Linked DNA regions of Homo sapiens. The protein of the gene in region 3 interacts with the protein of the main gene of each other region in a pairwise test. Each region holds a gene or a part of one and is shown on either strand. Other genes may lie near its edges. The genes, in order: GRIPAP1, TRAPPC6A, TTC23, POLR2J3, MIPOL1, TRIM10 and ADCY4.

Region 1 (4,429 bases), on a different chromosome or scaffold from region 3:
AGAAGAAACTAGAAGTGAAGAGACCAGGGAGGCGGCTGTAGAAACAGCAGATGATAAGTGGTAGAGGCTAAGGCAAAGCAGGGCCACAGGGTGGATATAAAACTTTTTTTTTTTAAATTGAGACAGAGTCTTGCTCTGTCGCCCAGGCTGGAGTGCAGTGGTGCAATCTTGGCTCACTACAACCTCCGCCTCCCGGGTTCAAGCGATTCTCCTGCCTCAGCCTCCCGAGTAGCTGGGACTACAGGCACGTGCCACCACACCCGGCTAATTTTTTGTATTTTTAGTAGAGACGGGGTTTTACCACGTTAGCCAGGATGGTCTCCATCTCCTGACCTCATGATCTGCCTGCCTTGGCCTCCCAAAGTGCTGGGATTACAGGCCTGAGCCACCACGCCCGGCCATAAAACTTTTAAAAAGTCAAATATTTTAGAGGGAAGATGAGTTAATAGAAGGATAATATTATAACTAATGCTTCCATAGCTGATACTATGTGCAAGGCTCTGTTTTAAGTGATTTACGTACATTTATTCATTTAATCCTCACAAAAGCCCTGTGAAGAGGCAGGTACTGTTATTATCATGACTTCCATTTTAAACATTTGGGAACCAAGAACCAGGCAAGTTAAGTAACTTCCTCAAGGTTACAGTTAGTAAAAGGTAGAGCCAAGATTTTAATCTAGGCCTTCTGGTTCCAGAGTCCCTGCTGGTACCTACTACTTGCTCAACTGCCTCTCCTGGTATTGTACCTGCTTAAAGGTTATTTTCGGTTTTGTTTTTTTAAGGTCATAGGCACTATATTCTCAGATGGAGCCTTAGAAATACCATTTTTGGGCCGGGCGCGGTGGCTCACGCCTTTAATCCCAACACTTTGGGAGGCCAAGACGGGTGGATCACCTGAAGTCGGGAGTTCAGGACCAGCCTGACCAACATGGTCATTTTCTCTACTAAATGTCCTCTCCCACCCATGTCATTTTCTCTCATCTCTACTAAAAATACAAAGTTAGCCAGGCATGGTGGCATATGCCTGTACTTCCAGCTACTTGGGAGGCTGAGGCAGGAGAATCGCTTGAACCCAGGAGGCAGAGGTTGCAGTGAGCTGAGATCATGCCATTGCACTCCAGCCTGGACAATGAGAGTGAAACTCCATCTCAAAAAAATTTGCTGCCATGAGACTTTTTTCCTTAAAACACACTAAAAACATAGACAATTATCAACTGTGGATACAGAAGATAGATGAGGGAACAAAAGACAATGTCTCCAACTGCCCAGTAGATTTAGAAACAGACAGGACACTAAAATCAATGGGGAGATAGAATTAGTAGCTCCAGGATGAATTATCTGGAAGAGGTAGAACCCCAGGCTCATGTCAGATGAAGAGAAGAAAGAGAAAAGGGAAGAAGCTCGAACACTTTTCCATCCTATATTAAGCATAAGAACTCTGCCTAAAACCCCCCAACACCTTGGAGCACCACAGCATCAACCCCACATTATACACATGGAGACTTGAAGCTCAAATAAAAGGAGTGACTTGGCCAGGAACCAGGTGACCTCAGGGCTCAAAGCCTTCTAATCCCAGCAGAGTGAGCGGCCCCATCTGTCAAATTACTGCCCCCCAGCAGCAATCCAGGACCTGTTTCAGCACCACGGACAGTGCTCCAGGGCCAGACCCTGTCCAATCACTCTCTGCCGCTGTTAGGTTTCAGCCCAGATGACCCCTACCCCTCATTTCCCCTTTGACTATCCCAGGCACCAGCACCTTGCTGAACTCGGCCATTAGTGTGCTGTTCTGCAAACGGAAGTCCTCCTCCTGGCTGTGCAGCTTTGCCTGCAGCATCTCATTTTCACTCAGCAATACCTCGACTTCCTGCAGTGGCAGACAAGGGCCAGGACTCCAGCAAGGGCAAAAAGGATAGGGAGGTAGGGCAAAGAAACAGAGAGAGGGAGAAAATGACATGGGTGGGAGAGGACATAGGGTACAGAGAATGAGGTGATATAGGAGAAAGAGACATGGGGAGGGATAAAATGAGAGACAGGGAAAGGAAGATAAAGACATGGGAAGGTAGAGAGAAGGGAATACAGGGAGGAAGAGAGCGGAGGAAAAGACAGGAAGATAATGATTGGGGAGAGAGGAAGTAGAGATGGGGAAAGGGGGAGAGATAGAAAAGGGGAGAGGGATTGGGAGGGAGAGAGTGAAAAAGACGGAGAGAAGAACAAACAGAAATCAACAGGGAGAGAACAGAACAGGGAGAAGAGGAGGGGTCAGGAAAAGAAATGAGTTAGGAAGAGAGAGGAATGGGGTGGAAGAAACAAGGAGTTAGAGAGAGAAAGCAGAAAAAAGAGAAATCACCGAGACAGGAACAGGAGGGGGAGAGACAAAGAGAAGATTGGGAAGAGAAATGAGTCAGAGAGACAGGAACAGGAAAACAGACAGAGACAGAAAGAGACTCAGAGAAAAGAATGGAAAGAGAGAGAAGGAAAGAGACACAGAGTTAGGACAAATACAGGGAAACAAGGACAGATACAGCAACACATGGCAGTGAGGTAGTAGCAGATGTAAAGGCACACAAAGAAAGAAAGGCCAGTACAAGGAAATATCAGCATACAGAAATAGCCCACCAAGACATCTCCCAGTCACACTCACCCACAAGGGATCCCCTTACCTGAGCTTTCTTGCTCTTGCTCAGTGCCTAAAGTGGGGGTGGGTGGGAAGAGAGCTAAAGTGAACAGAGATGGACTGCCTTACTAGGATATGGAGACAATTGTGCCAAGCGTTTTGGGAGGACAAGGATGACAGGGGTTGCAGGATGGGAGCATCTTCAACCACAGAACATGTGTGACAATTTGGAGCCCAAAGGAATGATGGAATGAGTGTGTGAGTGAGTGAATGAATGCAAGTCTTGCCCTGGGGCCCCAGCACACATAAATCATCCTTTCTTGGAAGCTCTTGAGGCTGGTGGGGGGACAGGGGAGGTAGGGAGATGCCCTGGTATTTAACCATTTATGGGCTGGATCTCCAGACTCAGAAACTGTGGCTTCATTGCTACATCTGTCCATACATGTCTCTGTGGGTCCCTCCCACGCAGTGTGGAAACTGTCGCTCCCCTACTGGGCAGCCAAGAGCATTGCCAGCTTAGGGGAATCAGCATCCTACCAAAGAGAAGTGCAGCTTCCTGACTGTCGGATTTTCTGCATACTGTATTCGTTCATCCAACAAATATTTATTGAGCACATATTATGTATTAACATTGTGCTAGGTATGGCTAGATATGGGGACAGAGCAGTGACAAAGGAGCACCTCGAATGTCTTGAGGGGCCACAATAGGTTATATCCTATCTCATCTTTAGAGGATCTGAGAGGTGGGTTTGCTCTCATTTTCCCAACTGGACCAGGACAGAGATGGGAAGTAGGAGCACAAGGCAGGAGTGTGAGTAGAGGATGGGAGGCAGATTCGAGGTAGATTTACTGATAGATTTGAATATTTAATTAAAAGTCAGTGAATGAGAATGAGTAACTGAAATTAGAAATGAATTAAAAGTAAATTAAAATTAATCACTAAATTAAGCAGGATTAGGTAAAATTAGCAACTAAAGAGAATTCCATTGAGAATCCTTTAAATGACTACGTGAAAACAGCATGCAACATTAGGTCTGGTTCACTGTAGGTGCTCACTGGAGGGATGAATGAGTCAGATAGGTAGAAGCAAGGGTGGATGGGTAGGTGGATGGGTGGGTGGAGGGAGGTACCTTCTGAGCTTTGCTGAACTCCTTATCCAAGTAGGCGACCTTCTGTCGAAGACTGGTGAGTTCTGGTGTCGGGAAAGCAGGGAAACTCAGCCTCAGCCAGTGGCAAGAAACTGAAAGGCCTTCCTGCCAGGCCTCTGAGGGAAAACCTCGGACACCATTCCCCAAAGCCACCCCCATCTAATAAGGCCCTCCTGGCTCACCAACACCATTCTTGCGTAGTTCATCTGAAAGCTGGTAGTTGTTTGTCCGGAGTTCCAGGAGCTGAGCCTTTGGGGGAGGCAGGAAGGGAAAAGACTTGGTCAGGAAAGCGCCCCTACCCCTACCATGAGGGAACCAAGCCCCTAAGCTCCACAGACCTTACGCCCTCCATGTGCCTCTGTAGCTACTCCTTAAGACCTGTATGTGCTACACCCAAAGTGACCTTCCAGGCCCTCAGACCCTGGCTCACCTTTTCCAGCTCCACTTATAACCCCAGCCAGCCTCACCCCTCCATCTCACACTACAATCCACGCTGCACTCAGGCCATCCCAGAGCACTGCCCCCAGTCAGGGTCTTGCTTGTGTGAGTTCCCTGGCTCTCCATGCCCACAGGATAAAGTTCCTCCTCCTCATCCTGGCTGACCTCTCCACACACTGAACACACACTGTCAGGGGTGTTGTCCATATTTCTGACCAGACCTGGGGGCC
Region 2 (3,831 bases), on a different chromosome or scaffold from region 3:
CAGGAGGAAGCTGGACGGGCAGGCCGGGGTGCTCCCACCTGGTGATTGGTGCGCAGGCTGTCCATCTGCTTCTGGAACACCGCCACCCACAGGTCTTTGCACAAGAACTTGAGGACATCCAGCTCCTCCCTGAAGGCCAGCGTCTCCCGGGGCAGCCTGGTGGGGCAGTACCAAGCTGAGGCCGTGGGGCCAGGCCAGGAAGAGGGAGGAAGACAGGCCCGACTCCTGCATGGAGCAATGCAACCCTCCCCGCCCGGGGCCTGCCCAGCCCTGCCAGCCAGGCTGGGGGAGAGCAGGAGGGGCCGCGCTCACCTCTCGCCTAGAGCCTGGCCCACACGGAACCCCATACCCTCCAGGACCGACAGGCTCATCTTCTGTCCCTAGAAGGCCAGGGGAGAGATGCTCAGGGGCCCTTAGCCACCACGAACCCGGGGCCACCCAGGGGGGGACCTGCCAGGGGACCCAAAGACCAACTTGCTGGTGCTCGTCAGTTCAGGGGTGAGCAGGGAGGGGCTCTGGCACAGCCCGGCCAGGGCAGGGGCAGGCCTCTAGGGTGCTGGGGCTCCCTCACCCACCTCTGCAGACCTTGCAGGCTCTCTGGATCCCCAGATCATCAGCCCCCAAGAACCAGCTCCCCCTTCCCTCAGGAACAATGGGGGTCTTCCCCAGGCTCCCTTCCTCCTCCATGACTTTTCCTGATAACCCCCATGACAGGCTGCACGTGCTTTCAGCGCGAACCCTCACAATGCCCTGGGAAGTGGGCGCTGCGACTCCACCAAGATGCTCCAGGTGACCTGCCCAAGGGCTGGAGGCTGGGCCACAGGAAAGGGGGCTGTGGAAGTCAACCATGATCATCATGCCTTATAATATTGGCCAAGATCCCTGGGGAACACGTGGAAGCTCGGGACAGGCAGATCTTCGTTTGGGTGCTCGAAAAGGACAGTGGCTGCCATGTAGTGTCTGGAGGGTAGGCCAGGGTCCATACAGGAGGGGACTGTGCTGGCAGAGGCAGGCCCCAGGTAGGAGGGCTGCACTCGGTGTCTGTCCACGTGCCTGTGTGTGTGGAGGGCATGGCTGGAGGAGAGGAGATGCTCATGGATTTTTTTTTTTTTAAGAGATGGAGTCTAGCTTCATTGCCCAGGCTGGAATGCAGTGGCCCAATCTCTGACTCACTGCAACCTCCGCCTCCCGGGTTCTAGCAATTCTCCTGCCTCAGCCTCCAGAGTAGCTGGGACTACAGGGATACGCCACCACACCCTACTAATTTTTTGTATTTCATTAGAGACAGGGTTTCACTGTGTTGCCCAGGCTGGTCTCGAACTCCTCAGCTCAGGCAATCTGCCCGCCTCGGCCTTCCAAAGTGCTGGGATTACAGGCGTGAGCCACCGCGCCTGGCGAGTTTTCTTTTTTGGAGACAGAGTCTCACTCTGTTGCCTAGGTAGAGTGCAGTGGTGCAATGCTGGCTCACTGCAACCTCCGCCTCCCGGGTTCAAACAATTCTCCTGCCTCAGCCTCCCGAGTAGCTGGGATTACAGGCCTGTGTGCCACCACACCCGGCTAATTTTTGTATTTTTGGTAGAGATGGGGTTTCACCATGTTGGCCAGGCTGGTCTCAAACTCCTAGCCTCAAGTGATCCGCCCGCCTTGGCCTCCCAAAGTGCTGGGATTACAGGCAAAAGCCACTGCACCTGGCCATGGATCTTTTTTTTTTTTTTTTTCATTCGGGTGTTTTGCTGCAAGCAGAGGAAGGGAGGAGGCCCAGACTGGGGGGCACCAGAAATCCCAGGACGGCTGGGGCGTGAGGCGCCAGGTTTTTCAGAGAAAGCCTGGCAGAGCAGAAGTGGGGGAACAGAGGCGGCAGGTGTGCAGCCCTGAGCTGAAGGAAGCTCACCCTCCCGCTGGCTGCTCTCAGGAGCCTGCAGTCACCAGGCCTGAGCCCTGCAGCCCTCCCTCTCCTGCCCTTGACCCCCACCTTCCCTTGGGAATGGCAGCTACCGCCTCCTCCCTCCAGGGCTGCACCATCAGCGCAGCCATCCGAATGGGGATGCGAATTCTCTGCTTGGCTCCAGCCCTGGAGCGGGTCTCCCAGCCTGGAGAGCGTGTCCGAGGAAGGCTTCTTGCAGCCTGCGGGCCCAGCTGCCTCCATCCCTCCCTCACCCTCTCCTCTGCCCCCTGAGGACATTCGCTCAGACTTCTGAGCCTTTGTACCGACTTCCTTCCCTTCCTCCCTCCCAGCTTGCGTCCCCAGCCCTGCCCACTGCACACTGTCCCTGGATGAGGACACAGCTCTGTGAAGGTGGGGACCCAGGCTGACCAATTCACATCCGGCCTTCAGCAGCCAACACAGAGCTTGGCATGTGGGTGGTGCTTAACAGACTGGCTGATGAGACAACGTGCATCAACAAAGGACACCGTAAGTCCTTACCTAATGCTGTCAACAGGCTCTTGGAAACTATGGCTTTAAGCAAAATGACATATGATGAAACCAATTTCACGCAGGTTAATTAACATAAACAAGAGTGAAGTTCCAATGCCATATTTCTGGTACAAACACATCACCAAACTTCTAAATAAGGATGAAAACACTTGAAATATTAAACACTGAAATAAATGTGAGCTATACATACGTTTAAGAAAGATTAGGCCGGGCGCAGTGGCTCACTCCTGTAATTCCAGCACTTTGGGAGGTCGGAGTTTCGCTCTTGTTGCCCAGGCTGGAGTGCAACGGCGCGATCTCAGCTCACCACAACCTCTGCCTCCCGGGTTCAAGTGAATCTCCTGCCTCAGCCTCCCCAGTAGCTGGGATTACAGGCATGAGCCACCACGCCCGGTTAATTTTGTATTTTTAGTAGAGACAGGGTTTCTTCTCTTTTGGCCAGGCGGGTCTCGAACTCCCAACCTCAGGTGATCTGCCCACCTCGGCCTCCCAAAGTGCTGGGATTACAGGCGTGGGCCATCGCGCCCAGCTGAGTCCAGGAGTTCGAGTCCAGCCTGGTCGACATGGCGAAACCCCTTCTCTACAAAAAATACAAAAGTTAGCCAGGTGTGGTGGCATGCACCCGTGTCCCAGCTACTTGGGAAGCTGAGGCAGGAGGATCATCTGAGCCCAGGAGGTCGCTACTGCAGTGAGCCATGATCATGCCACTGTACTGCAGCCCAGGCAACAGCAAGACCCTGTCTTTTTTTTTTTTTTTTTTTTTTTTTTTGAGACAGAGTCTCGCCCTGTCGCCCAGGCTGGAGTGCAGTGGCGCAATCTCGGCTCACTGCAAGCTCCGCCTCCCGGGTTCACGCCATTCTCCTGCCTCAGCCTCCTGAGTAGCTGGCACTATAGGCACCCGCCACCACGCCCAGCTAATTTTTTTGTATTTTTAGCAGGGACGGGGTTTCACCATGTTAGCCAGGATGGTCTTGATCTCCTGACCTCGTGATTCACCCACCTCGGCCTCCCAAAGTGCTGGGATTATAGGCGTGAGCCACCGCGCCCGGCCCTGACCCTGTCTTAAAAAATAAATAAAAAACAAAAAACCAGTAAGACATTTACTCGCTTCCTCCAGCTCAGGGTCCTGGGTGGCCAGAGCCCGTCCTGGCAGGGCCAAAAGCAGGAATGGACCCTGGACAGAACGCCATCCCATCACAGGGCGCACACGGGCCCACACTCACTCACACTGGGCCCACGGAGACCCGGGAGCTCACCCAGCGGACACATCCCAAGGATGCACAAGGAAAGGAGAGCCCAGAGGAACTTGCACCAGCACAGGGAGAACCCACAACCACCACCCAGACAATGGTCCCGGGAATCATTATTTTTTCCTCATCAATGTCACAACAAAA
Region 3 (4,429 bases):
CCACCACGCCCAGCCTGGAACCGTGTTTTAAAACTGCCAGCTCTGCTTTGAGGATATGGCTGCTCTGAGATCACCTGGAGCTGGGAATCCAGTTTTCTGTTCTTTTTGTCCTATCCCTGAATGAAACTGTGCTTCTTGCTGCTTTAATCAAGTCTGTAAGTCCTGCTGATCTCATTTGCTATGCTAGTGCAGATGGCTAAGGAAAGTTTTGAATTGAGAGCTAAACTATAGTATTTGACAGCCTGGGCAACATGGCAAAATCCCATCTCTACCAAAAATACAAAAAACTAGCCAGGTGTGGTGGTGCACACCTGTGGTCCCAGCTGCTCAGGAGGCTGAGGTGGGAGGATTGCTCGAGCCCCCTGGAGGTCGAGGCTACAGTGAGCTGATATCGTGCCATTGTACTCCAGCCTGGGTGACTCCAGGTGAGTGAGACCCTGTCTCATACACACACACACATACACACACACACAAAGTGTACTATTTGAAAACACTACCATTTGCCCCTGTTGTGCCTGCATATGTAGTAGCTGTTCATTGGTGGGCAGCTGGGAAACCTAGAGAATGACTAGATGTCTGCTCTACTTTTTCTATTTTTTAAATTCTATTTCTTTTTTTCACCCTTAAATGTACTATAAATTGTACTTCTTATGTTTATTGTCTGTTTCATCTTACCAGATGTACATGCTACCACCCCAAATAGATCTTTGTCTGTTTTGTTCTCTGATACATCTCAAGTGCTTAGAACAATGTTTTGCACATAGTAGTCACTCAGTATTTATCAAAGGGATATAAAAGCGCATTGATTTTGTGTTTTGTGACTCTTAAGTTGTATAACTGGTAAGCCTGTTTTCTCTTCCTAACAGTACAAACAGGCCGTCCATGAGCTTGTGCGTTGCGTAGCACTGACAAGAATTTGCTATGGAGACTCACATTGGAAACTAGCAGAGGCACATGTTAATCTGGCTCAAGGCTACCTCCAGCTGAAAGGTAAGCTCGCCTTAGACTGAGGGGGATCAGTTGGTCGATTTCTGCTGTTCTCCCCAAAATTTGATTCACACTTAATTAGAAGGATCAGGTTTTTTAATATTCTCCTTTCTAAATACCAAGAAGCCATTTCTTTTTAGAAAGAGTTGATAAGGTATATAACCTGTAAACATTCAAAGGGGAAAAATGGAAAAAATATTTTAACTTTTCTGGTTTTTTTGTTTTTGTTTTTGTTTTTATGATTTCAAAAGTAAGGTTCTTAGGAGAAAATTAATCTGTTGGGCCAGAAGACTTTGTAGGAAAAAACCCAAGGTATGGAATAGGGGCCCAGAATGGGATCCATTCACACTTTTATTGGAGAATCTCTTGACTGTAAATAACCAAAAAATTTAAAAAGACTAACCCAAATTGGCATAAACAAAAGTTTTTGGCTCATACAACTTAAAAATTCAAGGGAAAAAATTTTTAGACTTAGCCATATCCAGTGTTCAAACAATGTGACCAGGATTCAATTTTTCTCTCTCCCACTGCTTGGCTCTGTTTTTCTTGGTATTTGCTCCATTCTTTGCCAGGTTTTGCCCACATGGTGGCAACAAGACTGCCTGCAACTTTAGACTTCCCTTATAAGCATTCCCAGGAGGAAAAGAATGTCCCTCCACCAAAATCCCGGGATTTGGGAAGGGTTCTAATTGGAACAACTTGGGTTGTATACCAAAGGCAAGGAATAGTCTGATTGGCTAAACCTTTCTTTTGGCTTCATTGGATCCTGAAGGAGAAGCAGGCCTTCGCCACATCTCATGGATTGGATGTGCAGGAGCCAGGCATCCCAAAAGGGAAACAGAGGGGAGAATGCGTGCAGGGGAGGCAAAAACAATAGACACCCAGGATATGATGATGGCTTCTACTTACTGACTGTGCAGCCTAAGACAAGATGGACAAGAGCATCTCTGTGCTCAGCTTCTTCAGCTGAAAAGTGATGATGATGGTAATGGTGATGCTAACTTTCCAGGGTTGGCCCAGTGAATAAAGAAAATAATAGAAGTGGAAAACACCAAATGCCAAGCATATTCTATACCAAGCGTATTCATTATTGCCACCCAATAAATTTGGCCAAATCTGATTATAGACTGGTCCTACCTATTAGATCAAAGGCTCTTAGGGACCTTGGAGATTATCTAATTTAAACTCTGCCCTCCCACCCCATTTTGTAGATTCAGGGAAAACAATGAGTCTGAGTTAGAACAGCTTTCCCCATACCACACTGTTAATAAGTAGCTGATCTGAGACTCAGACCTAGGTTTTCAATGCCAGTTTGTCCTGCCATCTGGGGTTTCAGACGATGCTTTTCTTATACAGCCTGCTGCCTCTCTGCGTGACAGTCCTTCTTTCTCAATTTAAAGTAAAAGTAGTATCTACCATTTATTAAAGTCTCATTTGGTGCCAGGCATGTTGTTTTCCATGCATAACCTTATTCAGTCCTCACCACAGTCCTCAAAGGTGGGTATTTTTAATATCCCTGTTTACAGCTGAGAAAGCTGAGGCCAACGTTTTATAATAAGTGGTGGAGCAGGGGATCCATCCTGGGCAGTCTGACTTCAGAGCCAATGTTCTTGAACTTCACCCTATGCTGCCTCCAGTAAATTGAGTTCAGGTTCCTTCAGGGACTCGACACAGTTGAAAATACAGTCCAACATGCTTTGTGTAACATCACAAGCACAGGTGGCACTAATACATGTCTGTGCTTTTTAAAAATATGTAATAAGACAATCTTGTGTAAGAATTCCCACATGAAACACATACCCTTGATTTTCTCCATTAGAAAATATATTCTTCCTGTTTTATAGACATAGGAACAGAATTAACTTCATATTTTGACAGATTTTTTTAGAGATCTAAGATACAATTTTGTGTAACTAAGAACATAAGATGGGGGCTGTGTGTATGTGAGTGGAAGTGGTTGTCGGTGTAGGGGAGGAGGATGGGAATACAGGGACGTGCAAAGCCCTGAAGCCGTGCTAGCGATCTCAGTCCTCCCTTCCCACAGATTAACAAGCCCGTGGAGGAACACTGGAACACACTGGGGAATTCTTTCTTAGTAGTGATTTTTTTTTGCTCCACTTTGTTTCATATTAGTCTCTTACCACATAGGAAGATGAAATTGTCACACATTAATCTGTTACCTCACTGGAATTGTGTTTGTAAGTTTTTGTAGATATCAGATATGTATTATGTTAAAAAAATAACTCTCTGACATTATGATTATAGGTGGGTGAGCTGAAGATTCAGAATTTTTAGTATTTCATTAAGATTGCAGTTACACAGCCAGGATTAAAATTCATGAATATTTTATTTCCTGCTCAGAATGCTATAGTTCTTGTATTCAGTTTGTTTCTTATAATTATATGTAACATATTTTGCTTCTGCTATTGGTGAGGTTTCAAAGCTGTTCAATTCCAGCTCATTTTGTTTATTTCTAAAAAGGCCATTTGGGGGAAAATTTATCTTGGGTACTTGGTATAAAACACTTCTTTGGTTGTTACAGTCATGGCAGTGTTTCATGCTGCCCAGATACGTCTCCATGTGTCATTTGACAATATGTGAAGGAGACCTTGTTAGATTCCCAGACCATAAGGAACTGTATTCCTGTCCAGTTGAGATGATAGAGAAACTGAGACCTCTTTTTCTTTGTCCACAGGACTGTCACTGCAAGCAAAACAACATGCAGAAAAAGCCAGACAAATCCTCGCCAACTCCATTGTGCCTCCCTATAGTGAGAATACAGATGTTTTCAAGTTTTCCATTGAGCTTTTCCATACCATGGGCAGAGCTTTACTCTCCCTTCAAAAGTATCCTTTTGCCTCTAACTTTTACAAATAGAAATACTATTCACGTAACACTTACACGCCAAGTAAAAAGCTGATGCTGATGGATGACTTAGGAAGTGTGATTGGAAGTATGGGAGCCAAGGAAGTTCAGGACATGGGGTGTAGAATCTAGAACCAAGTGGAAAATTTCCTGAACACAATTCAGATTTAAGGAAGCTGCAGAGAATTTGACAAAAGCAGAGAGACTTTCAAAGGAGCTGCTACAATGTGGAAGAATTATAAAGGAAGAATGGATAGAAATTGAAGCACGGATCAGATTATCATTTGCACAGTAAGTTTCAAGTTTAGGATTTTGCATACATGATGGCGGGAGGCTCTTTGCCTGTAGAATCTGTCTCAGGTAGGAGGAGCATCTCCATGAGGCTGCGGCCATGGCTTCTCTGGAGGTCACTGTGTAAAAGTAAAAGAGGAACACAGTCATGTCAGAGCAGCCCCAACCAGGGCATCCATCAGTGACACTTTTCACTCTCTGTGGAGTGCCCTGGGTCCCAGAGTTCTGATCATTATTCTCTTGACTTTCGTTTTACCTGCTCTCCCTCCTCACCCCCAGCCCCTAC
Region 4 (4,047 bases), on a different chromosome or scaffold from region 3:
CAGGGGCTATGTTTAATGGGCCCCTCTGGGCAAAGCACAAGTTCCAAGTCTTCCTCAGTCTCTCTGAGCTACAGGAAGTCCTTCTGGGGGCTTGCTCTGGGCATTTTATAATCTTGGTACCTTTTTATCAAAATGACACCGACCTCCATGTCTTCACATAAGCCACACTTCTGTAGTGGCTTATTCTGTAGATGAACACGTGCATTTACATTCACTGTTTGTTTGTTTGTTTGTTTTTGAGATGGAATTTTCTCTCTTTGTTGCCCAGGCTGGAGTGCAATGGCACGATCTTGCTCACTGCAACCTCCGCCTCCCGGGTTCAAGTGATTCTCCTGCTTCAGCCTTCCTAGTAGCTGGGACTACAGGCCCACGCCACGATGCCCGGCTAATTTTTGTGTTTTTAGTAGAGACGGGGATTCACTGTGTTGGCCAGGCTGGTCTCGAACTCCTGACCTCAGGTGATCCACCTGCTGGCTTCCCAAAGTGCTGGGATTAGAGACGTGAGCTACTGCGCCCGGCCTTACATTCACCATTAAGTGCACATTCTGTAAATGAACGAGCAGCAGATTCCAGCACAGTAGGCCTGTTTGTTATTCATGCTGAGGGACATTGAAAAGCAGTCAAGATTAGCTCCCCTCATGCCACCCGTTTGTGACCTCAGTGCCACCTGGGCCTCTAAGATGTATGTGGCAGAGACTAGAACTTCTATTTAACAAGAGAAAGAAGTAGGAGTTCTGTGGCTATCCAGTGCCCCTAATGGGCACCCTGCATTGGTTGGTGGGTGTTTGTTTATACCAGTGAGGTCCTAGCCAGGTGGTTGGTCAGGGATGTGTCTGCCATTCTGGCCCAGGGACTTGCCATTTTACTGTAGACTTGGCTCTTCCCTCTGGTGCCACCAGCGAAGCCAGGCTTTTCCCCGTCTGTGAGTGGGGTCTGCCCAGTCTCCTGGTGTGGTCAGGCACGGGGATGGAGGAATCCTGCCCGGAGCCCAGCCAGTGGGGCACCCAAGCTCTCCTGGGGCCCTGCTGCTCCCCTGCTCTTGAGCTCAGTGTTGCCACCTATGCACGGGTCCCCCTTGTGGTGCTCACGCCACTCTGAGCCACTCTAGAGGAGACCCCTGCATGCCCAGGGCACAGTACGCGATGCAGCCCCATGGCACAAGGCCCAGTGTGCGTGGCCAGCCGCTGGCGGCTGTGCTGCTCGGAGGGCAGAGTTCCATTTGCATTCCACTCACTGCCGGGAGCTGGCCCTCCTCTCCTGCTGCCTTTATTTGCTGCGTGGAGGCTCTTTGTGGGCTTTTTGGGTCTGAGTCACTGAACACTGGCTGGACATTCACTGCCTGGGAGATCTCTTTGCCAGCACTGCGGTGCCCGGTGGGAAGAGGTTGCTGGAATCTCTTTCCAGCTCGGGTCCTTCAACCTCATGGATGCAGAGTGTGTGTGTGTGGCGGGGATAGGGTGTCCCCACATGAGGTATCTTCCTAAAAGTGTTACTTTCCTTGAAGACTTTTTGGGAAAAAAGTTGGGGGGGATTTTTGGCTAGAAAGTCTGTTCTTCTGCTCTGAGCTGGCTGCTACCCAGCTTGGGCATGAGGCTAGACCCTCACACTGTCTGTCCCTGGACCTCAGACAACTCCTAAAAGACCCGCAAGTGCTATTTGCTGGCTACAAAGTCCCCCACCCCTTGGAGCACAAGATCATCATCCGAGTGCAGACCACGCCGGACTACAGCCCCCAGGAAGCCTTTACCAACGCCATCACCGACCTCATCAGTGAGCTGTCCCTGCTGGAGGAGCGCTTCCGGGTGAGGGCGGGGCCTGGAGGGGCAGACGGGGTGGGCTGGACACTGGCCCGTGTGCCCAGGCCTGGGACAGCCCTGGCCTGTTTCTTCGGAGGTCCTCAGGGAGAGGCGGCGGTGATGGAAGAACAGGGACTTCCACCACAGGCTCCAGGACATGTGGACTGAGGGGCTGTGGAGTCTGGGCCTGTGGCTCCCGTCTGCCCCATGGGACTTCTGTAGTGCTGCAGGGTCCCTCGGGTGCTGTGGGCCAGATCCGGGCGGGGACCTACTGTCCTTTGGGGGTGCTCTTCTACGTCCCTTGTCGGTGATTGGCAAGGCCTGGTCCTTCCAGGCCTCTGGGAGGCAGCTCACCCCAGGGTGGCCCACACCTGTTCCTAGCAGGGCGCCTGGGAATCTAGAACAGTTTAGAGGGGAAAGAGCCACAGCAAAGAAAAGCCGAGGCAGGGTGATCACGAGGTCAGGAGTTCAAGACCAGCCTGGCAAACATGGTGAAGCCCTGTTTCTACTAAAAATACAAAAATTAGCTAGGCATGGTGGCATGTGCTGTAGTCCCAGCTACTCGGGAGGCTGAGGCAGGAGAATCGCTTGAACCCGGGAGGCGGAGGTTGCAGTGAGCCGAGATTGTGCCACTGCACTCCAGCCTAGGTAACAGAGCAGGACTCCATCTCAGTCAATCAATCAATCAATCAATCTCAGCGGTTGAACTACCCTTGACATGGTTCAGCTCTGTATCCACACCCAAATGTCATGTCAAATTGTAATTCCCAGTGTTGTGGGAGGGACCTGGTGGGAGGTGATTGGCTCATGGGGGCCGACTTCCCCCTTGCTGTTCTCGTGATATTGAGTGAGCGCTTGTGGGATCTGGTTGTTTAAAAGCGTGCAGCCCTCCCACTTCACTCTCTCTGTCTCTCCTGCTCCAACATGGCCAGACGTGCCTGCTTCCCCTTCGCCTTCTGCCGTGATTGTCAGTTTCCTGAGGCCTCCCCAGCCACGCTTCCTGTACAGCCTGCAGAACTGTGAGTCAATTAAACCTCTTTTCTTCATAAATTACCCAGTTTCTCATAGTTCTTTATAGCAGTGTGAAAACAGACTAATGGACCCTTCTGGTTGAAGGAATGCAGCCATTCTGCTTGTTTGACTATGTCCTTTCTATTCATCTCTATTTCCTGGGAGGTGTTTATCCAAGTGCAATAGGAGGTATTGGTGACCGCACAGTCCCCTCAGTGTTCTGCTAGTAAATAGTTGAAGGTTGATCATTGATCTTCTGCGTTTTCAGTCTGGCATGGAAAAGCCCCTGTGCAACTGGTAAAGATATCAATAAGCACCAGGAGGTATCTAAATCCACCAGGAGCCATAGGCATCACGTTGACATCCATTTACCAGTCTTCCCTGGCAAGATTCTTCTGAATTGTGCTGCCTTGGCCAAAAGAGGTATGGGAGGGGCTGGGCGCAGTGGCTTGTGCCTGTAATCCCAACATTTTGGGAAACCAATTCAGGTGGATCGTTAGAGGTCAGGGGTTCAAGACCATCCTGGCCAACATGGTGACATCCCATCTCTACTAAAAATACAATAAGTTAGCTGGGTTTGGTGTTGGGTGCCTGTAATCCCAGCTACTCGAGAGGCTGAGGCAGGATAATCGCTTGAACCTGGGAGGAGGAGGTGGCAGTGAGCTGAGATCGTGCCATTGCACTCCAGCGTGGGCAACAAGAGTGAAACGTCGTCTCAAAAAATAAAAAAAAGGTCCGGGCTTGATGGCTCACACCTGTAATCCCAGCACTTTGGGAGGCCAAGACGGGTGGATCACGAGGTCAGGAGTTCAAGACCAGCCTGGCCTAGATGGTGAAACCCTGTCTCTACTAAAACTACAAATATTAGCTGGGCATGGTGGCATGCACCTGTAATCTCAGCTACTCAGAAGTCTGATGCAGGAGAATTGCTAAAACCCAGGAGGGAGAGGTTGCAGTGAGCCGAGATTGCACCACTGCACTCTAGCCTGGGCGACAGAGCAAGACTCCGTCTCGAAAGAAAGAAAGAAAGAAAGGAAATTCCCCAGGGAAGTACCTCGGCTGATTTCATAAACAGGTACCGAAGGAAGCAGAGGCATGTGGAGGACTTCCCCACCTCATGCAGCTATTTGGGCCATGGCGTCTGAAATTTATTATTTCAGAGTCACCCCTTTGATGACCTTGGCAGTGAACTGCAGTCATCTGTTTAGGCCTTTCCATGGCCCACGTCAATGCCGTTATT
Region 5 (4,429 bases), on a different chromosome or scaffold from region 3:
AGACTTCATAACTTTTGAATGATGAAGAAGAGATTGACAGTTTATTCTTTAAGTCCATATGGATAAATGAAGTTGAATAGTATTAATTCAGTTAGTCATAATGTTAGAAGAGTTAACAATGACACTGATTAAACACTAAAGTGGATTACTAAAGAGAGTTTCCGTTTCAAACCATATGAAAGAGATAGAGGAATCAACAGGATGGTTTTAGGTTTAAGTTTTCATCTGCCTAGAGATAAGAGTTTGAATCGAAAGTGAATATCTTTCTGTTTAACATTTGTCTTATCTTTTAAATTGACTAATATGCAAAACAGACCAATAGCTTCACTTTAATGGCATTTTATTGGCTTGTGTTTATATTTCTGTATGCAGTTCTTTTTAAAGTGATGGGGCAATACAAATAAGCTCAGCTAAAGCTCTTAGTAGCTTCGTCTCATTATTGCTTCATAAAGATCCTTCTCCTGGGCTGGAGAGTTTAGGGAAAATAACTGAAGTCTGAACTTAGAGTTACTAACTGCTTTCATCTTCTCTTGGTTAGAAAAGGTACTAATTCAGAAATAAATTTGGGCTATGAATAAGGTAAAGAAAATTAGGCAAAATGCAAGATGATAGAGCAGTATCTTAAAATTTGTCTTGAAAAGTCAAAGTGTTTCATGCCTGTTGCTTACTCACTAATGTTTCAGAAAAAAAAAAATTGTAAGGTCAGGCATGGTGGCTTATGCCTGTAATCCCAATACTTTGGGAGGCAGAGGCAGGAGGATTGCTTGAGCCCAGGAGTTTGAGACCAGCCTGGGCAACATGGCAAGACCCCATCTCTGAAAAAAAAAAAATTAGTGAGGCATGGCAACACAGCACACAGCTGTAGTCTCAACTATTCGGGGGGCTGAGTTGGGAAAATTGCTTAAGCCCGGGAGGTCAAGGCTGCAGCGAGCCATGATTGTGCTACTGCACTCCAACGTGGGTGACGGAGCGAAACCCTCTCAAAAAAAAAAATTGTGTAGATAGTTATAGAAAGAATGGTTAATAAAGCAAGCATGATAAAATGTTAATATTTGGGGAGTCTAGGTAAAGGGCATACAGTAATTCTTTGTTTTGCAACTTTCTTATGAGACAAATTATTTCAAAATGAAAAGGTACAAATGAAGGATTATCTAATGTCAGTTTTTGTCGGCTTTCTCATTTAGCTTGCTTCTGCAGTCATTGAAATCTTTGATGTTTGGCTCTCATTTCTTCTCTCCATTTTCTGCCATTTTTCTGGATGACTTCAATGCCTTCAAAGGTGGTACTTTCAGCACTTTGACTTTTTGATTTTCTCCACTCCAAGTATGTTCACTTTTAATTTATTTCATCAACTCATTTCCAGATGAGCCATACCTTGGACTTTGTCCTTAATACTGATTTTAGAAATTTTCTTCCGACTATAACATCTTGTCATTTCAATACAAGAAATGTCTCTTCATTTTTCCTAAATTTATTTCTTCTCCTCTATATCTATTCCTATTCTTCCTATTTTTATAGTCTATTAACTTTTTATTTCATCTAACTCTGGCTATCCTTTGGCAGTTTGCTACTTCGCATATCCCTACTTGACCTTTTTTGGAGCAAATGCCTTTGTGAAGTCTTCCTAGAGTCTTCCAGGTGAGCATTAGTATGTCTAGCATATTGTATGTATTTGGCCTCCATAGCCCAAGCATAGTCCTTATTATACTGTATTCAGATCATTAGATGAGTTTGCCATCCTCACTGTACTAGAGAGTCTTTGAGTGGAGTGTTTGTTTCTTATTCATCTTTGTTTTCCCAGTAGCTACCACAAGACATACCACACTGTAAGTTTTCAATGAACGATCAGTAAATTAATGAATAAATAAATTAGAAGAGTCAAACTTTTTATACAAATGTTTGAATACTAATATAGTGTAACGCAGGATGGCAGAGAGGAGAGCATTGAAAGCCTTCAGAGGATTTAACATTGATTTGCTGGAATCATACTTGCCAAAATAGTTGGTCAAAAAAACAAGACAGGCAGGAAAATTTTTATAAGTCAGCCATGTGTATTCTAAAGTAAAATTAAATTCTCAGACTGGGAGTCTGAGGTGGGAGGATTGCTTAAACCCAGGAGTTTGAGGCCAGCCTGGGCAACACTGCAAGATCCTGACCTAAAACATTTTTTTTAAATAAATTTTCAGTAGAAGAGTATGGATAGTCTGATTTGCAGAGCAGGCTCCAAATTTCTGATGAGCCTTTTGAAATAGAAATCTGAAAGCTTTTACTACTGAACAAAATGAGAAATATCCAGAAATAGAGCCATGTCACACAGTATGGGTTCTTTAAAAATATTAAACATTTATAATTAAATTTTAGAATGGAAGTCTGGAGTGTGTCAGAAATTGATGGATTTATTGTAATAAAACTTCAAGGGGTTATAATTACTAAGACCCAGGAGGGATCAACACAGAGTCTTCTTATTAGGAAGCTCTTATTGGGAAGCTTCTGCATCTCCTCTAAGATTGAAGAAGATAGTGTGGTCACAAGTTAAATAGTGGTAATTTATCAAGAGTTCAGGGGATCACAAAATTTCACATTAGGTTAAAGCCAAAGAAAGAGAACTATAAAACTAGTAAACAACCATTTACATTTGACAGTTTTAGGAACAGATACATCTGAAGATTACTTGTTCATTCTTGACAGCTCAAAATGCTTACTTGGTTTGCATTAGATGGTCACCATGCTAGTTTTCTGTAATAGGCTGGCATTAGTATAATGAAACTCTTAAAATCTGAATGACAAAAGTTTATAAACGGGCACTAAGGAAAGCCTCTATATCATTAACAGACCATGCTTTCTAACACTAACATAACATTGTAAGTAACTCAAATGAAAAGCAATCAGAAATAGTTACTGAAAGCATTATCAAAATAACAAACATTGCCCCTAGGGACATATTTTTAAAAAACTCTTAGGCCCCACATTCTTCAGTTTATGAAGTGCCATATTTCTTCAAAAGGAAAAAGGATGGTCCATGGACCACTGCCAACTATAAAAGCCCCCAGGTCCCCATGACAGCCCCACAACTGCTTCAGACTCTTAAGTCCCAACTCTTTTTGGCCTATTTGAGACCAAATTTACCATTATCTACAACTTATCCCAATGCTTATCTGATTACAGTAGGAGTAAGACTAGAAACTATATGTTTAAAGCTAAAGAGTGTTTCCAAAAATATTTATTTGACTGAATGATTTAATATGCAGTTATGGTGTTTAATATATCATGTGTTATTTGTTTGTTTAAATACAGACATAACCCACAGTTATCTTGAACAAGAAACTACGGGGATAAATAAAAGTACGCAGCCAGATGAGCAACTGACTATGAATTCTGAGAAAAGTATGCATCGGAAATCCACTGAATTAGTTAATGAAATAACATGTGAGAACACAGAATGGCCAGGGCAGAGATCAACGAATTTTCAGATCATCAGTTCTTATCCAGATGATGAGTCTGTTTACTGCACTACTGAAAAATACAAGTAAGTGCTCACAGCCTTAGATTTAGAAGGAATTGGGGCCAGGCGTGGTGGCTCATGCCTGTAATCTCAGCACTTTGGGAGGACGAGGTGGGTGGATCACTTGAGGTCAGGAGTTCGAGACCAGCCTGGCCAACATGGTGAAACCCTGTCTCTACTGAAAATACAAAAATCAGCCAGGTGTGGTGGCACATGCCTGTAATCCCAGCTACTCAGGAGGCTGAGTCATGAGAATCGCTTGAACCTGGGAGGCGGAGGTTGCAGTGAGCTGAGATTGTGCCACTGTACTCCAGCCTAGGCAACAGAGCAAGATTGTCTGAAGAAAAAAAAAAAAAGAGAAAGTTAGAATTGGAAGAACTTTTTCTCCCTCCCTTCTTCCCTTTCTTCCTCTTTCCTTCTTTCTTTTTGGTGTTGGCTAATTCTAAACTTATTAGAACTTGGCGAATCTACCAGGGTTTTCTACTGTTTCCATGGTATGGATATAATATGTCTAGTTAACTAAGTGAAAAAGCACAAAGTGCATCTGAAGAAAGACAGGTTTAATTCTATTTTATTCAATATTATTTTCTGTGACCTTTCTTTATGTATTTGGAAATAACTGTTAAATTGATATACATGACATATCATTCATGAAAGTAAAAAACTGGCAGCTCCAGGACAAGGTAAGCCCAAACATGCATTTTGGTTTGGGTTAGCGCTATTTTTCATTTAAATGAATTTGATGCTTTTAAAAGGGCCTTGTTCTCTACCATTTGCATTCCTCATTATTTTACTTTCTCAGCTTTTACCCAGTAACCTTGCCTACCTAGCTCATGAAAGGATTTGAATTTGTGATACCTGATACTTCTACCCATGAGATTAAGGAACTTTGATAATTAGTCATGTGCTAGAAAAATATTATTAGAT
Region 6 (4,313 bases), on a different chromosome or scaffold from region 3:
ACATAGATTATAGGGCTTTGAAGTTATTATGAGTTTAAATCCTGACTCTGACACTAACTCTATGACCTCAAGCAACTCTCCAACTTCAGTTTACTTATCTGTAAAATGGAGAGTAAAAATCATCATGACCTCATTGAATTACTGTAAGCATTAAATGAGATTGTGACTGTAAAGTAGCTCAGGGCTGTGCACATAATGTGCTTTTCATACAAGACAGGAGGTAGGGTGTCCCCACCACCTCCTCCTACACCTCCTGTAAGCCCTACCCCTTTTAGAAGCTGCAGCAGATGGTGCTGAGACAACACTGTGAGTCTTGCTTCTCGAAATGGGATGACAAGTGAAAAGGAAACCATGACACAGTTCCAGATCTACCTGGGGACAGGGGAGGAAGAGGAGCAGAGGGAGAAGGAGGAAGCAAACTTTCTCTTGGGCTTGCCTCCTGCCCCCTCAGACTCAGGTGTCCACCAAGAGACAACAGGTGATTTCTGAGTTCGCACACCTGAGGAAGTTTCTAGAGGAACAGCAGAGCATCCTCTTAGCACAATTGGAGAGCCAGGATGGGGACATCTTGAGGCAACGGGATGAATTTGATTTGCTGGTTGCTGGGGAGATCTGCCGGTTTAGTGCTCTTATTGAAGAACTGGAGGAGAAGAATGAGAGGCCAGCAAGGGAGCTCCTGACGGTGAGGCCTGAACCGGAACCCTGCCCCACCTGTGCTGTCCTGTGACTCTTGCATCTTTGTCTTGCCTAAGCCATGTCTCCCTGACTCACACATCTCTGTATCCCAGATGGGAGGTGGGTCAGAGGACCAGAAAGTCTCAATTCTAGTTCATGCTTTTCCAAGAGTTCCCTGGTCACTTTTTGCTCTCTGGTCTCCACCTCTCCGTCCCACCATCTGCCAAATAGGGAAGATACTTTCCTTAAATATTTCACAGGGCTTTTGTGAGGATCCAACAGTAAGATGGAAGTGAAAGTAGCACTTTGAAAAAGTATTAAGTAAGTTGCAAACCATTCTCTATAACCTAAATGTCACCAACCACCAGTCAGGAAGTTTGTCCTGGTCTATTTCACTTCCTCACACTGGAGGAGAGGTATTGGGGTCCCCACAAAGTATTGGAAAGGCAGCATGACTTAGAATGATGCTCTTAGGACTGAGAAACAGGAGACCTTGGTATGAGACTTACTTTGCCTCCAGTGAGCAGGGGAAGGTCACTTCACCATCTTTATCTAAAAAATAAAGGCTTTGGGCTCTGATCCACAGAGATGGGTGAGTCCTAATGCTCTGTGACTCTATGCATCTGGTATCCTTTTCCTGTCCAGGGCTAGAAATATATTTTGTCTTTTCCAGTCATAAGAAAAGTGGGAGGAGCCTGGGCAACATAACAAAACCCCATCTCTACAAAAAAAAAAAAAAAAAAAAAAAGAAAATTAGCCAGGCATGGTGACAAACACCTGTAGTCCCAGCTACTCAAGATGCTGAGGTAGGAGGATCCCTTGAGCCCAGGAGGTTGAGTATGCAGTGAGCCATGATCACGCCACTGTATTCCAGCCTGGGCACCAGAGTGAGACCCTTTCTCAAACAAACAAACAAGCAAATAAAAAATAAATAAAATAAAAGTAGAAAAAGAAAGGAAAGAAAAATGGAAAGGAGAAGCTGGAAACTGAATTTCTGGTATCTCTTTCTCCTAGGACATCAGAAGCACTCTAATAAGGTAAGCAATATAGTTTCTCTCTTTTCTTTTTCCATATAAATATACATACATGTACTGCATGCCTAGTTATTGCCACACAGGTATATAACATTCTCACTTAAGGATACAAATTTACATATAAACCTCTATATACCCAAATGCCTTCTCAGGTATATCCATAGATGCCCAAAAATGGGCAGTGGGATTCATCCTAGAGGAAGTACGTCTGCCTGCAGGAACTAGCGCCATCATGCCCTATTAGAAGATGACCAGCTGAGTCTGGAGACATTATTAAGGATGATAATTCCCAGACCCAGCCATTTCTGTGCCCCTAGATGTGAAACCAGAAAGTGCCGGAAACCGGTGGCTGTGTCGCCAGAGCTGGGCCAGAGGATTCGGGACTTTCCCCAGCAGGCCCTCCCGCTGCAGAGGGAGATGAAGATGTTTCTGGGTAAGAGAACCCCAGGCCTCCACAGAGCGCAGGTGGCCATGAAGCCTGGGTTTAGGAGTGGCCTCCACGCTCCACTGCTGAAAGGTGTGACTTTGGCAAGCCTTATTCCTTCCTGTGCCTTGATTTCCTTATTTGCAGATTTTTATAAAATCTGCCTATTAGGATATTGTGACAATGAAGAAAGAGAATAAAGGTGAATATTTCTGGTGAAAAAGTTAAACTGATTTTAAAATAATTCAACAAATCTGATTAGTGGTCATTAAGCAATATGAAAGATAATGATTAACAATATATCATTCTTAATAAGTTAAAAAATCCCACAGCAACATTTGTAATATGTGATAAGTTTTTGATGATGAACATTGTTAATTAATAGCCAACAACAGTATTTATCTTGACCCTGTGGTATCTGGCTCGTCCCTCCTTCCTTCTCACTTTCTTTCTGTTAGTCTGGCTCAGAGTTAGACGGTCCTACGGGGACTGTGCTCCACTTCCTTTTCCGGAACAGGGAGTGGTGGTAGGGTGTGGGGGAGGGTTTGGATGAGAGTCAGGAATGGGACATGGCTCTCTGCCAACCACCTCCTCACTAACCATGACAGAATGAATGATGACACCAATTTTGAAATGACCCACCCACAGTTATGTCACCCTAGAAGGACTTTTCCCATAATTCCATTTCCTGCAAATACTTCCAGTGACCTGTCAGTGAAGGAAATTTCACTCTAATCAAAGGCTGACCTTTGACTCTCCCCAAAATTATTTCCAAGTGGAATAATAAATAAATGAACCCATTTCTCTATTCACTAAGCAGATATTTCTTGAGCATTTACTATGTCCTGGGCTCTGCGGGTACAGAGGTGAGCAAGGCAGTCATGGTCCCTGTTTGATCAGGGCTAGGGCAGTGGGGCTCCCACCAGCAGCAGCAGCTGCATTGCCCAGGAAATTGTTAGAAATACAGATGTTCAGCTCCACCCCAGAGCACCTGAATCTGAAACAGATGTGTTTTAACAAGAGCTCCAGATGATTCTGATGCAAGCTTGGAACCACTGGTCTAGAGGATTCCAGCTTACATTCTTCTTCTTGTCCCTTCCCTCTTCTTGGCCTCAGTTTTCTCATCATTAAGTGTCTGATGGTTTTGTAAGACTAATAAAATCTCATCCTGGTTTATTTTCTTTACAGAAAAACTATGCTTTGAGTTGGACTATGAGCCAGGTAAGGAGCCTATGTCAGGATGGGAGAGAATGAGAAGTCCTCGGAAAGGAGAGAAAATTTTGCAGGATTTGCACTATGACTATGTTATGACTATGACAATAGTCATAACAAACACCCATGGATACATATACACATCATATATATTATATATACACATATGTGTGTGTATATAATACATGTGTGTATATATAGGTTGTGTGTGTGTGTGTGTCACATTGTTTGTAAGGCTCTCAGGAGAAACATGAAGAAAGGACAAGCACATACACATACTACATTCGTGGTATGAAGCTCACATCCTGATCTGCGCATGTCGAGTAGATAGAAAGATTAATGCAGAATGGGATAAAGTCCATCTGGGAATGCTTTCTGGATAAAGGGGACTTTGATCTGGGTTTATAATCACCTCTTTAGAACGTAAGGAACCCCTGCTTCCTCTCAGATGTCATTTCACAGATGACAGAAGGAGGGCGGCCTGTGGGTGGGAAAAAAATGAACAGAATGGACCCCTTCAAGGCTGTCATTTCTCAATCAACCAGCCTAAGACCCTGGGAGTCACGGAGTTGTTGGAGGGGGTTCTCTAACCCACAGATGGACCTAAATTTATGGAAGCTTCTCAATTTATGAATACTAAAAGTAACAAAACGCAAGGCTCTGCAGCAGTTTTTGGTGGTAAAAAGTGGTCCTCAGACTCTGACAGTTTCAGAATTACTGAGGCAGAGTGAATAACCCAGGGGTGAGCCAGAGAGCCTGCCAGGAGGGAAGACTGTAAATGAGTCACCAGTGCCCTGGGAGGAAAACAGGGAGGAATCATGAAGTTTGGACTGAAGGGAGAAATGTCGCTGCACTGTGGGATAGAGATGGGAGGAGGGGAGAATGTGGTATATCAGCCCCAGGAGATCCAAGCTGGCACGCACAGCTTTGGAAACCAGCCAACTTGCGGTGAGCAGAAGAGCTTTCCC
Region 7 (4,908 bases), on a different chromosome or scaffold from region 3:
CTCAAAGACTGGCTGGGGAAGACTGGGCTTTACAGTGAGGGACCTAACTATTGTGGGACAAGTGGTGCCACACTGTGGCATCCCTAGGGACGTTTCCCTTCCCAGATGCTCCCTCCTCCAGACTCTCGGCTGCTTCACCAACACGACCTCTTAGGTCTGGAAACGTTTGCAGGTAGGTTTCTTGTGCTTGGAATACCACTCCACTGTCGCTACCCACTCCCATCGCACAAAACTTTTTTTTTTTTTTTTTCATTCTCTGTCAAGGTTTCATTAACCACATCTGTTGTCCCCGGGGTAAACCACGACACGACTCCCTTCCGTGTGGCCTGGATCCCTCTTCTGGTAACAGCAGGCATTGCATCACACTGTTGTACCAGCTCTGCGAAAGCACGGTTGGGTATCCTGCGCCCAGCGTTGCACCTTGACTTGGAGTCACAGCTCAACAACCCCCTAAAAGGAGCCTACTAGCACGTGGCAGAGCCGTCCTGAGCGCAGCCTGTGCTACTTGCGTGCTCACCTGCGGCAGCAGTGCAGGCCGTGAGTCCGGCTGTGGCCCAAGATACAGCCCGAGGACCAGCAGATGCGAGAGTGAGGAGGCGAGGCCCGCGACGGCGGCGTCCCGCATGCCCAAGGGCAGCATGGCATACGCCGTGAAGATGACGAAGAGAAAATAGGACACCTGGGGGCGGGGCGCGGGAAGCCGAAGGCCCAAGTGGGGCTATTCAAGGCCTGGTGAGGGATCGAAGCCCGGGCCGTCCCCGCTGCCCCGCCTGCCGCCCCTCTCACCTGGTCCCAGGCGCTCACCACGCCCCCGGTGAACAGGAAGGCGTGGCCTAGCGCTAGCAGCGCGACCCATACCAAGCCGGACAGGGGACGCGTCCAGCGCTGCAGTCGCTGCTCCCGGGAAGCGAGGCCCAGCAGCAGCGAGAAGCCGCCCAGCGCGCACAGCACAGTGGTCAGGAAGCTCGGGTCTGAGGTCAGCTCCTGTGGGCAGGGGTGTGTGAGGCAAGATTGTGACAGGGAGAAGGAACGAACCTGATAAAGGAAAAGCCAGCAGCCCAGCCCCTCAGCCCAGTTCTGAAAGGTGTCTCAAGCCTAAGTACGAAAAGGAGGCAAGGCACCTCCGCTTGCCATTCACTTTAGGTTGAACCATTTGAAATTGCTTGTGTCCTACTGCTTTTATCTAGACTCAGCAGTCTCGTATGGTTTTTGTTGGTTGGTTGGTTTGTTTTTTGAGACAGAGTCTTGCTCTGTCGCCCAGGCTGGAGTTCAGTGGCGCGATCTCGGCTTACTGCAACCTCTGCCTCCCGGGTTCAAGTGATTCTCATGCCTCAGCCTCCCGAGTAGCTGGGATTACAGGCTCCCGCCACCACGCCCAGCTAATTTTTTTTTTTTTGTATTTTTAGTAGAAGACAGGGTCTCGCCAAGTTGCCCAGGCTGGTCTCGAGCTCCTGGGCTCAAACGATCTCCCGCCTTGGCCTCCCAAAGTGCTGGGATTACAGGCGTGAGCCACAGCGCCCAGCCTCCTGTTGTCCAACCTATTATCTTGCTGGGACAGCTACCCAGAAGATCTGGCTCCCATCCCCTATTTGTTTCTGAGCCTCAGTTTTCTTATCTGTCAAACGGGAACCAAAGCGTCATGAAGCAAGTGAAAGATAGATCCAAGCTCACAAGGAGGCACTTCGGAATGAATGTCTCCAAATCTGGCCAATTTGCTCGGGAGATTCCCGGAGCCGGGGACCGCGGCCGGCAGCTTGAAGGGCGGCGCGAGGCAGCGCTCGAGCAGCAGGGGGCGCCAGGACCCGCGGCGTCCCGCACCTCCCTGGCCACCAGGGCTGCGATCTCGCCACCTGCCTCAACTCCAAGCAGAAGCTGCACAGCCGTCCCAGCATTTTGTCCCCACCTCTTCCCGGATTTAGGCGTGGACCAGCAAGGATTGGCCGCGCCCGGTGATTTTCCCACCTTGCCTCCAAGCAGTGAAAAGAAAACCAGGGGCAGGCCATTTCTAGAATTGGATTGAAGACCTTCTTCCTCCCCAAACAGAAACTGGACATGGGTTTACTTTGGGACTCAGTGAGAGCCCGGTGGAGGGTGCCTTCTGGGAGTCTGTGGGTACAACTGCTCTACATCCCCTAAGAGGGAGAGAAAGGCAGGAAATGAATTCCCCAGGGGCCTCCTAGAATTTCCCCTTTGGAAAACTGGAAAATCCGGTGATGGATTTATTGTAGAACCCGTAGACCACGGATGTTCATAAAGTCTGTCAGAACCCGGACAGAAACGAGAAGCATCCAGGACTCAGCTTTCTCCCTGAGCAGACCCAGAAGGGTAGAGTGACTTGCCCAGGGTCACTGCAGTTCCTAGCCAGGCTCAATGGTCCTTTCTTTCTCTGCTCCCAGCAACGAAAACACATCGAAAAGAAGACCCCACAAACCCCAACCCCGAAAATGCTCCCCAGGTAGAGACCCTCCCGCAGCAGAGGCTCGGCTCACCCTGCCGCTGGCCCAGGCCACTGCGAGCAGCGCCGCGAGCGCACAGAGCACGATCCCCAGCAGCAGCAGCAGCAGCGGGTACTGCTGGCTCAGGCTGTAGTAGGTCTCGTAGAAGAGGTCTTCGCTGGGGGGCGGCCGGGGGCTGAAGAGGCGGGCCATGATCTCCCCAGCCCCGAGCCCCGGGGCTGGCTAGGGCCGGGCGCCGGGTTACCTCCTTCGGCCCGGCGGGCCCCACCTGAGCTTTTCTCACCCGCTCAAAGCCGCTACCACCCCGCGCCCCCAACCTCGTGGCAATCCCGTCTCCTTTTTCAGGCCCTCCCTGCGGCCTCCCAGCCCGCTCCCAGCTGGCGATGAGGGGATCCCTCAGTCCTTTCCTCCTCCTCCCTCAAACCCGGATTGTAGAGGTGCCCTAGAAAAGCCTCATCGCCAGGAGGGCAGGATTTGGGGTTGGTGCGAGGGAGCCCCGGGTTCCCCTGATCCCCGAACTCACTGCCCGCGGCGCTGGCGCAGCGGAGTGGGCTAGGTCCGGGGAGGGAGCCGGGGACCTGATGGCGGAGTCACGCTCGCCGCTGCGCTCTGGCTCAGAGTCCCGGGCGACAGGCGCTTCCCTCCCGGCGCCGCGGCCCCCTCCCACTTCCCCGACGGGACAGCCCGGCCCCTTCCTGTGCCAAAGCCGGACTCCCCTGGTCTCCTCCCGCACTTGGTTTTGTCTCTCCTAACACCATCGCCTCCCCGCTTCAGCCCCTTCAGGGAAGGGCAATGTGGACCCTGGGAGAGATGCGAAGGGGTGGGCTGGGGTGGACCCAATGGGATGTGTCCAAATGGAGGTGAACGTTTGGTAGTGGGGAGACCGAGGGCGGGGGGCTGAAGCCTGGCGAGAATGTAGGGAAGAATGTGGGTCCTGGTGGGGATCTAGGTCAGAGTTGGGGGCGCTCATTCTCTTGACCTCTCCGCTTGGCTGGCAACCACTACCACCGGGTTTGAACTGTTCATGCTCCGTGGGAGGGGTTGCGCCTGTGTATAGCTTTAGGAGCCATAGCTTTCCACTCCCGAACAGCAACTGGGAATCAAAAGGGAAGCAATGTCCAGGAAGCAACCTGAGTGTGTGGTGGAGGCAGGTATGTGGCGTCATGATCTCTAAGAGCCTGGGGGCACCGTGCGGGGCCAGGTCTGTGATCTTTCACATCAACTCATCCCTCGCCAGAGCCCTGCAAGTGAGTCTTGAGAGCCCGGAAGAAAAGGGACCACAGCCTCTATCCCCAGAGTTTAGGGTTAGGGTGGGGTCGCCATCCTAGGCTTTAGAGGAAGCACTGCCCTGAGATTAGAGAGTGGTCTGGGGAACCAGGCCTCTAGGATTCCTTCCTGTTGTAGCCGGCTGTGCCCTGACCTTGTGTGCCAGGCCATTGCCCACTCCCAGCCCCCAGCATCCCCACTTCCTGCCATAGCAGAGCTGTGGTGCCTCCCTATCCCTCACTGGCAGCTCCCACCCCCATCCCAGTCCCTCCCTGCCCCTGGCTGAGCTCAGACTGACTAGCATTCCATCATGTTTATTGACTCCTGGGGGACAGGTCACAAAGTCAGTTTGTGGGCAGGCCAGACTGCCCTAGAAGGAAGTCAGGGGCCTCAAGGGGTGGCACTCTTCCTTAACTCGTAACTCTTGGAGGCAAGCTTGGAAGGTGCTTTATTTCCCGCTATGATTATACCAACCCTGTGGCCTGCTCCAGGCTTCAGGATCTTTAGGGCCTTCTTGCGAACCTACTGGTGGGGGGTGCTGCAAGCCCCTCCCCTTGCCCGAAGGTGCCAAGCCCCATGTGGGCAAGGCAGTTGTCTGTTGCATAGTCAAGTAGTTGTTGTCTCCAACTTGCACCCCAGAGCAGTTGTATATGTTAACGAGCGGTCGCCCTTTAAGAGAAATAGTGATGGTGGCAGGAGGGTTTAGCTGTCAGAAAGGCCAAGTTGGGGGTGGGTGGGGAGTATGAAGTCTCTACTTGTCAGTGGCTGTGTCAAGGTGTGCCCTGTGCTCCTCCCCTCAGAGCTCCTCTCCAGAATTGTGTTAGCAGAAGCTCTAGAGAGTGGCAATTGACATTTGAGACCCTGATCTTTTTTGCTGGGAGGTCCTCTGGACTGCTGAAACAATGGAACTTAGGGGGCTCACAGAGCTGGTGTTGTGGAAAGTTAGAAGATTCAGGGACAAATCCAAGCTTTGTTGTGTGACCTCAGAGGGCTCCTTTCTCAGGGGGTGTCGGTTTTCCCATTTATGAAATGAGAAGGTTGAGTTAGATCATCTTCTCCCCTCCCCTCCACAAAGTACCCTGAATCTAGATATAGGTCTGGAGGAGGAGTCTGGTGGAAGAATTGAACAGGGAAAAGAAAGAGGTAGAGAATGGGTACCTGTTACTGGATTTGGCTCCGGGGTCCT

The links.
Region 1: the proteins of TTC23 (region 3) and GRIPAP1 interact in binary tests that used the Homo sapiens proteins (3 or more experiments, as listed by UniProt).
Region 2: the proteins of TTC23 (region 3) and TRAPPC6A interact in binary tests that used the Homo sapiens proteins (3 or more experiments, as listed by UniProt).
Region 4: the proteins of TTC23 (region 3) and POLR2J3 interact in binary tests that used the Homo sapiens proteins (3 or more experiments, as listed by UniProt).
Region 5: the proteins of TTC23 (region 3) and MIPOL1 interact in binary tests that used the Homo sapiens proteins (3 or more experiments, as listed by UniProt).
Region 6: the proteins of TTC23 (region 3) and TRIM10 interact in binary tests that used the Homo sapiens proteins (3 or more experiments, as listed by UniProt).
Region 7: the proteins of TTC23 (region 3) and ADCY4 interact in binary tests that used the Homo sapiens proteins (3 or more experiments, as listed by UniProt).

Annotation. Positions count from the first base shown.
Region 1 is NC_000023.11:48,995,495-48,999,923, forward strand, and holds part of GRIPAP1 (GRIP1-associated protein 1), read right to left. Parts: intron 4,011-4,429; coding exon 3,944-4,010; intron 3,806-3,943; coding exon 3,744-3,805; intron 2,687-3,743; coding exon 2,660-2,686; intron 1,864-2,659; coding exon 1,756-1,863; intron 1-1,755. UniProt on the Homo sapiens protein: Regulates the endosomal recycling back to the neuronal plasma membrane, possibly by connecting early and late recycling endosomal domains and promoting segregation of recycling endosomes from early endosomal membranes.
Region 2 is NC_000019.10:45,164,815-45,168,645, forward strand, and holds part of TRAPPC6A (trafficking protein particle complex subunit 6A), read right to left. Parts: intron 381-3,831; coding exon 313-380; intron 157-312; coding exon 39-156; intron 1-38. UniProt on the Homo sapiens protein: May play a role in vesicular transport during the biogenesis of melanosomes.
Region 3 is NC_000015.10:99,218,302-99,222,730, reverse strand, and holds part of TTC23 (tetratricopeptide repeat protein 23), read left to right. Parts: intron 1-866; coding exon 867-990; intron 991-3,682; coding exon 3,683-3,833; intron 3,834-4,017; coding exon 4,018-4,143; intron 4,144-4,429. UniProt on the Homo sapiens protein: Participates positively in the ciliary Hedgehog (Hh) signaling.
Region 4 is NC_000007.14:102,565,765-102,569,811, reverse strand, and holds the end of POLR2J3 (DNA-directed RNA polymerase II subunit RPB11-b2), read left to right. Parts: intron 1-1,627; coding exon 1,628-1,802; intron 1,803-2,728; coding exon 2,729-2,761; 3' UTR 2,762-2,846; downstream 2,847-4,047. UniProt on the Homo sapiens protein: DNA-dependent RNA polymerase catalyzes the transcription of DNA into RNA using the four ribonucleoside triphosphates as substrates. Component of RNA polymerase II which synthesizes mRNA precursors and many functional non-coding RNAs.
Region 5 is NC_000014.9:37,263,644-37,268,072, forward strand, and holds part of MIPOL1 (mirror-image polydactyly gene 1 protein), read left to right. Parts: intron 1-1,563; exon of another isoform or gene 1,564-1,638; intron 1,639-3,294; coding exon 3,295-3,526; intron 3,527-4,429.
Region 6 is NC_000006.12:30,154,768-30,159,080, reverse strand, and holds part of TRIM10 (tripartite motif-containing protein 10), read left to right. Parts: intron 1-451; coding exon 452-682; intron 683-1,689; coding exon 1,690-1,712; intron 1,713-2,026; coding exon 2,027-2,142; intron 2,143-3,321; coding exon 3,322-3,354; intron 3,355-4,313. UniProt on the Homo sapiens protein: E3 ligase that plays an essential role in the differentiation and survival of terminal erythroid cells. May directly bind to PTEN and promote its ubiquitination, resulting in its proteasomal degradation and activation of hypertrophic signaling.
Region 7 is NC_000014.9:24,332,005-24,336,912, forward strand, and holds the start of ADCY4 (adenylate cyclase type 4), read right to left. Parts: upstream 3,068-4,908; 5' UTR 2,649-3,067; coding exon 2,490-2,648; intron 985-2,489; coding exon 787-984; intron 680-786; coding exon 518-679; intron 1-517. Other genes in the region: RIPK3 (receptor-interacting serine/threonine-protein kinase 3), read right to left, coding at 4,171-4,391, 4,881-4,908. UniProt on the Homo sapiens protein: Catalyzes the formation of the signaling molecule cAMP in response to G-protein signaling.